Homo sapiens: one gene and its partner. Changing the gene in region 2 together with the main gene of any one other region gives a genetic interaction. Each region holds a gene or a part of one and is shown on either strand. Other genes may lie near its edges.

Region 1 (3,500 bases), on a different chromosome or scaffold from region 2:
CTCGACTTTCTGGGCTCAAGCAATCCTCCCACCTCTCCACCTCCCGAGTAGCTGGGACTACAGGCACATACCCCCACACCCAGCTAACTTTTGTATTTTTTGTAGAGATGGGTTTTGCCATGTTGTCCAGGCTGGTCTCAAAATCCTGGGCTCAAGTGATCCACCCACTTTGGCCTCCCAAAGTGCTGGGATTACGGGCGTGAGCGCAACCTCCCTTCTTAGCCCTTCCTTTGATTCTTCACCTTGGGAACTCTGCTGGGGACGCCAAAGATCAAGACACAGCGTAGGCCCTCTTCCACCAAGGGCCTCAGCATCTCTTCCAGCCGCTTCACACCATACCTGTGTGGGTGTGGGTAGAGGGGTTGAAGGAAGGCAGGTCCCAGGCAACGGTCCTCCGGACCCCACCACACTGTGTGCCTCTGTTAGAAACCAAGCTGCATATGGCACCAGGAGGGCTCAAGCCCCCAGGACAGAAGGGGCAGGGATGCATCCACTAAATAGGAGGGAAGACTGAGGCCCTGAGTAGCAGAGCTCCGGAATTCGGCTGTGGAAGGCTCCTTCGAGGCCCTCTTTTTGAACTCCCATCTGCAGTTCAGCTCCCTTCTGCAACAGCCTCTGCCACGACGTCTCGGGTGATGGGTAGCTCTTTACTTTATGGGGCTGCCCCTTCCACTGTGGAACAGCTCTGGCCCCGGGGAAACCCTTTCCTCTACTGAGCTAATGTCTGTCTGTCCGCATCTTCTACTTCCTAGGTCTGCTTCTGCCTCCCAGCACTTCCACCTGTGGAATCTCTCCCTCCACCACCCGCTGGCCCCCCAACTCCACGTCTCCTACCTGGCCACTCCTGGGAGGCTGGTGATAGGCTGTATGTCATCAGGAACATCCCTGCAAGAGCGGGGGTGGGATATGGATTGGTAGCTGTGGGAAGGGCCAGTGGTGCGGGGGCGACTGAGAGGGATGGTTGGGAAGCAGGAAAGAAATATGGAAGTGGAGATGGTGGGAGGAGGATGGGATCCAGTGTCTGGCTTCCCTGCCTGGCCAAGCCCAGGGCCTGAAATAATAATAGGAACAACAAGAATAACAGTGACAACACTAGCAACTGTACTAAAAGAACGGTAATTACAGGAAGGAATTAAGTGGTTAAGAACTTGGACTCTGAATTTGGCAGGTCCTTGCTTTCTATCCCAGCCACTTACTGCCTGGGTGACCGTGGCCAAGTTCTATCATCTCTTTGAGCCTTAGGCCTTCATCTATATCATGCGTGGTTAATTCATTCATTCAACAAATATTTATTGAGTACTTATTATGTGCCAAGTACTGTTCTAGGCCCTGATGATACAACAGTGAACAAAATAGACAAACATCCCTGCCCTCATGGAGCTGATGTTCTAGAGGATAGCTACTCCTTCTTCATACAAATGCTCTCAGAATTGAATGAGATAATGTGTGTAGGTGCTTAGCATAGTACCTGGTAGATAGTAAGTACTCAGTAAATGTCTGCATTATTATTAACAATCACGATTGCCATCTCTTTTTTTTTTTTTTTTTTTTGAGATGGAGTCTGGCTCCGTCGCCCAGGCTGGAGTGAAGTGGTGCAATCTCGGCTCACTGCAAGCTCCGCCTCCCGGGTTCACGCCATTCTCCTGCCTCAGCCTCCCAAGTAGCTGGGACTACAGGCACCCGCCACCACGCCTGGCTAATTTCTTTGTGTTTTTAGTAGAGACAGGGTTTCACCATATTAGCCAGGATGGTCTCGATCTCCTGACCTCGTGATCCGCCTGCCTCAGCCTCCCAAAGTGCTGGGATTACAGGCGTGAGCCACCGTGCCCAGCCTCAATGACTGCCATCTCTTACAGGTACATAGCACTTTACAATGTACAGAGCACCTTCTCAGCTTCTGTCTTACTGCAAGAGCTCAGGATGGCAGGCAAGGGTTATTCTTCTAATTTTCCAAATGGGATGAATGAGTTCTTTCAAAGTTTGTTTTGTTCCTAAGATTCCTGTCCTTAATCCAAGTAGCCTGCTTCCAGTGCCTTGAATTTCAAGCTGACAGCTCACTTTGCCACCCCCAGCCATACTGATGCCCGCTCCAGTCAACACTCCCTCCCCAACCCCAACCCCAACCAGCAGAGCAGAGGCCTGGCCCATTCTTGGAGACTCACGTGACAAAGATGGGGTAGATGAGGTTGGAGGCATTGAGGGTGGTGGTGGCTGTCTGCCAGGCCCGAAGTAGTGGGTGGAAGTAGCCGCTGTGCAGAACGGACTGGGGCTGCATGGCGTGGGCCAGTGGGCACAGGGGCATCAGTTGGTTGGAACCGAGGGCTCCTGGGGCATTGGCTGCAGGCTCTGTCTGTGGGGGGTGATGGGTGGCACATGAGACATGGTCCCTGTCCTCAGGAGATGGTCACATCTGGAAAACAGCTCTTCTAGATTCCTGCCTCCCCTCTCTCTAGCCCAATGCTACTCACAGCATGGTTCACCAATCCCTGCTGGTCAACAAGGTAAGTTGAGAAATGAAAGTAAGTCTTTAGAAACTTTCATGACAATCAGAATCTAATGATATAAAATTTGGGCTTGTATTTTATGTGACTGCTTCTTGTTCATTATTATCTTTTAAAGTAAACATCTGAGCAAGCAATGACTGTTTAAAAAAAATTCTCTTCTTTTTTTTTTTTTCACACAGGGTCTCTGTCGCCCAGGCTGGAGTGCAGTGGTGCAATCTCGACTCACTGCAGCCTTGACCTCCCGGGCTCAACTGTTTCTCCCAACTCAGCCTCCCAAGTAGCTGGGACTGCAGGTGTGCACCACAACATCCAGCTAATTTTCGAATTTTTTGTAGAGATGGAGGTCTTGCCATGCTTCCCAGGATGGTCTCGAACTCCTGGGCTCAAGCAATCTGCCTGCCTCAGCCTCCCAAAGTGCCGGGATTACAGGCGTGAGCCACGGTGCCTAGCCAAAAAAGTAATTTTCTAGCTGGGCATGGTGGCTCACGCCTGTAATCCCGGCACTTTGGGAGGCTGAGGTGGCAGGATGGCTTGAGCCCAAGAGTTCGAGACCAGCCTGGGCAACATGGCGAGACCCTGTATCTACAAAAAGTTTAAAAATCAGCCAGGTGTGGTGGTCCACACCTGTAGTCCCAGCTACTCAGGAGGCTAAAGCAAGAGGATCGCTTGAGCCCAGGAGTTCAAGGTTGCAGTAAGCTATGATTGCACCACTGCACTCCAGCCTGGGTGAGAGAGGGAGACGTCTCTAAAAAAAAATAATAATTTTATTGCATTGCATTTTATCAAAGAATCAATAAATTGGAAATAGAAAAAAAAGAACTAATCCTTCCTTATGCATAAAGAAGCACTGATCTAGCCAACATTTAAACTTTGTTTATTCCACAAAAAATGCCCGTGTTCATGGCAGAACTTTTAGAAAAGTGCAGATAAGCAAAAAGAGAAAAATCCCCTGCAATTCTACCTCTAGAGAAAAGTACTGTTGGCCGGGCATGGCGG
Region 2 (3,812 bases):
GGAGGGCAGGGTGGGAGATGACCTGCAGCCTGTCTGACTTCTCAGGAGTCCTTGCAAGGGGGCCGCTGACGGGCCAGCCACCTGCCTGCTCAGGGCCTAATGAAGGCTGGCTTCTGCCCTCCACGCCAGCCATACCCCTTCTGAGAGCGGCCCCTCCCTCCCCCTTCCTCTCCCACACTTCCCTGCTCTCACCTCTCAATGAATTTCTGGAACACGTCCCCTCGGAGGTTTTGACAAATCTCTTCGATGTATGGCTAAGGGAGGAAGCTGGAAGTTGGTGACTGAGCCCCGAGAGACCGTGGTTGCCCAGGCCCCACCCCTGGCTGACCAGGCTTGTTGACCAGGGGCTGTCCAAGGTGACCTTGCCTGGGGAGGGACCGGGAGGCACACACCTGGAAGAGATCCGGAGGCACCTGCTTCTTCCCCAGGTGGCCTTGGACATGCTCAGTGGCACTCTTCGAGAAGGGCTGGGGAAGACAGAGGTGGCCATGAATTCTCAGCAGGGTCCTCTCTTCCCCTCCCAATCTGCAGGTGACTCTGGGCCAGCACACAGGGCCAGCTGAGGACACTCACATGCGAGCAGGCCAGCAGCTCCTTCATGATGTATGAGTCGAAGATCTCCCGGCTGCGGGCCACACGCTCCTCCTCCGTCTCCAGCTTCTCGTACTTCTTGATCTGGAGGACAGGATTCCTGCAGGTCATCTAGAGCCCAGCAGGGAATGGGGATGCCCACACCAGGCAGCTTGTGGGTTCCACAAAGCCGCCCCAACCTCCTCCCCTTTCTCCAGGCAGAGCAGGGCTTGGGCCTCTGGGTCTCACCTCCTCATAGAATTCCACCAAGGGCCTGGCCTCCTCCAGGTGGTTCAGGCAGAAGTCTCGGAAGAGCAGGTACCCTGAAGGCAACAGTGTAAGGTCACAGAGCCACGCCTCTCTCAGAGGCCTTCCCATCATTGTGGATGGTGTGGGTTGGGCTCCCTGGGCAGAACTGGCTATGGAGGTGGCAAAGGTGGTCTCGGCCCCAGGCAAGGGGTGGGCCAGGCAGCTGCTAAGGCTGCTGCCAACGTGAAGATTCCTGGATTCTGGGTTGGGGCCCCTGTGTTTCTACCCTCTTCCTGAAATCTGTTTCCCCAGGTGGTAGCTGGACGGCGATGGGCACCAGGGTGAGGCAGAGGAGCGGGGTTGGCTCTGGCATCAGGGAGCCCTGGCTTAGCACCTGGGCCCCCACTCACTGCAGCCCAGGGCCCTGCGCCTGCTCTGTGAGGCCGATACCCCCCACCGGGGCGGGCTGTGCAGGTGCAACACGATTCAGTCTGGGGGCCCTGGGATGCTGTGGCCACCGGGGCCAGGTCAGGCTGCAGCATGGGGAAAAGGTTAGCAGGGGGCTCTGAGGCCACACCACTCCTCTGGACCCTGCCCCACTCCAGTGTCTGGCTGATTTGCACAGCAGCCTGAGAAACAGGCAGGGAGGGTGGGTCCAGTTGGGGAAACTAGGGCTCAGGGAGCTGGTCAGACACACTGTCTGTGGCAGAGGCTCAAGTGGAACTCAGGGCTACTCCACCAAATGGCAGGTCCCTGGGAAAGAGGTTGGGGCTGGGGCCTCAGGGCAGGGGGCATGGAACGGGTGTAAGCCACAGGGAACTGGAGAGGCAAGGTGGGCTGTGGGAGGGGCTCTCAGGGGACCCCAGATAGGGTGTCCTCATGCCTGAGTAAGGGGCCTGGACCCTGGACCCCGGCCCCCGAGCACTACCAGGGGACAGAGGCCCTCCTCAGGCCTCCAGTCTGACACGGGTAACCAGGCTCGAGCTGGGTGGCCTCTCATGCCTTCGGGGGCACTGCCTGGGCACCTGGGTCAGAGCTGCGGCCATCATTTCAGTCCTCACTGCCTGGCCTTTAGTGCAGGGCCTTTGAGGAATGGGGGCCAGGCTTCACAGTGGGCACAGTGCTCCCATCTGACTCTGACAGGCCTGCACAGTCGGACTCATGAGTCCCATCTCCCAGATGAGGACACCATCAGGCTCAGAGAGGTGAAGCAACTTGCCCAAGGACAAAAGGCACAGGCCTGGGACCCAAACTTTGTGCTTCTTGACACACCGACTCCCCCAGGCTGACCCCCAATGCCTGATCCCATCAGGCCAGGATACCCCCTGTCCAGAGCTGAGCTCCTGTTCTCGGGAAGGCCAAATCAGAGCCATGTGGGGCTGGAGCCTGCTTCCCGAGACCTGCCCCAAGCCTGCCCTCCGGGCCAGGTCCGCAGGGTGGGTCACATGAAACTTCTGACAGCAGGCATCAGACACCAGCTGGAGGAGGAATGGAGGGCCAACACCAGGCAGGTTGCTTACAAAGAGGGCCCATGGGGTGGGGCGGGGCCAACCACAGCTCGGCAGGCGCCACAGGAAGGGCCCCGCCTCTTCCTGTCAGTTCTACCAACGGCCCAGAGCAGCTGCGGCCGCGCCAAGGGGAAGCTGCAACTCTCAAAAACAAAAACCCCAAAGGAGGAACTTCCCTGGCGGCCCTGGAAGACTCTGGGCCCCCACCCCCACCACGGGGCTCCCTGGGCCGACAGCCAGGGGCAAGGAGGCACGCAGGGTCGCAGCGACTTGGAGCAAGCCCTGGGGTCTCGCTGGCTGCTCCACCCTGAGTGGATGGGAGGCCAAATCTCTGGAGAGTGGGGAGCACAGCTGGGCTGGCTGGGGTAGGGGCAAGAAGTTAAGTCCGGTGGCTGGCAGAGCCACTGCCATACTCACCCAGCTTCTGGGAAAAGATCTTCTCAAAGGTCACCTCGCCCCGGTCCTCCAGGTACTTCTGCATGACACTGCGGATGCTGTGGGTCAGGGGGGCGCAGTAAGCAGAAGCCCCCAGAGCCCGTGGGGGCTGCAGGCCCAGAAACGCGAGCTGAGGGCACTGTGGTGGTGTCGCCACTCCCTCCAGGAAGGAGGCCAGCCCGTCAGGCCTACTCACTTATCCCAGCCACAGGTCAGACCAGAAGGCTTCAAGGAAGCCTTTGCCTGCACCGCCCCCGCCAGGCTGTGTCCTCAAAGGCCAGGGTGGCCGGCAGGTGGCCCCCTGCTCAGAGGCCCACCGCCTGTGGGGTCTCGTCCCAGTGATGCCACCGGCTGGCTTTGGGAACTTGGCCAAGTCACAAAAGCCAAGCCTGGTTTGTGAGCGGATGAAAAGACACACATGTGGCATCTCCACGCAGCAGCACATGGCTCGGCTGTAAAAAGGAACAAGGCACCAACAGGGGCCACAACGTGGATGAGCCTTGAAAACATGAGGCTGAACGAAGCCAGTCACAAAGGGTTGCCACATATTGTGAGATTCCACTCATATGAACAGATCCACGGACACAGAACGCAGATCCGTGGCTGCCGGGGGCTGGAGAGAGGGAGAGGAGTGACTGCGGTGGGGACGGGGTTTCTTTTTGGGGTAAGGGTTGCACAACACGGTCAATGTACTAAAAAACACTACATTGTATAATAAAATGATGAATTTTATATGAATTGCATCTCAATTTTTTAAATTGTAAGAAAAGGCCATGCCTTGGTTCGTGTGTCCCTAGTACTTGGATATAAAATGTGACCCCTGCCCTGGGTTGCTTGGTATGGCCATAGGGGAGGGCCTGGCCATTGTGACCCTCAAAACCCAACCCGACATCCCCCACCCTGTTTATCTCACCCCACACTGAGTGCTGTCTGGGAGCGCCACACCAGGCTACACTCCCGGCCTCAAATACCACCTTACTGTCCCCTCCTGCCCTCTCCTGGCCCACCTCAAGCCCAGCCCTGCCGGTCTGTCCCAACAGCCAGCTGAGG

The links.
Region 1: changes in GRK2 (region 2) and ALAD together harm fitness more than expected from each alone (negative genetic interaction), as found in Homo sapiens cells (one large-scale study listed by BioGRID).

The regions. Positions count from the first base shown.
Region 1 is NC_000009.12:113,391,285-113,394,784, forward strand, and holds part of ALAD (delta-aminolevulinic acid dehydratase), read right to left. Parts: intron 2,354-3,500; exon of another isoform or gene 2,351-2,353; coding exon of another isoform or gene 2,276-2,350; coding exon 2,163-2,275; intron 1,052-2,162; coding exon of another isoform or gene 886-1,051; coding exon 835-885; intron 340-834; coding exon 243-339; intron 1-242.
Region 2 is NC_000011.10:67,276,281-67,280,092, reverse strand, and holds part of GRK2 (beta-adrenergic receptor kinase 1), read right to left. Parts: intron 2,822-3,812; coding exon 2,745-2,821; intron 894-2,744; coding exon 820-893; intron 676-819; coding exon 574-675; intron 468-573; coding exon 393-467; intron 255-392; coding exon 193-254; intron 1-192. UniProt on the Homo sapiens protein: Specifically phosphorylates the agonist-occupied form of the beta-adrenergic and closely related receptors, probably inducing a desensitization of them. Key regulator of LPAR1 signaling.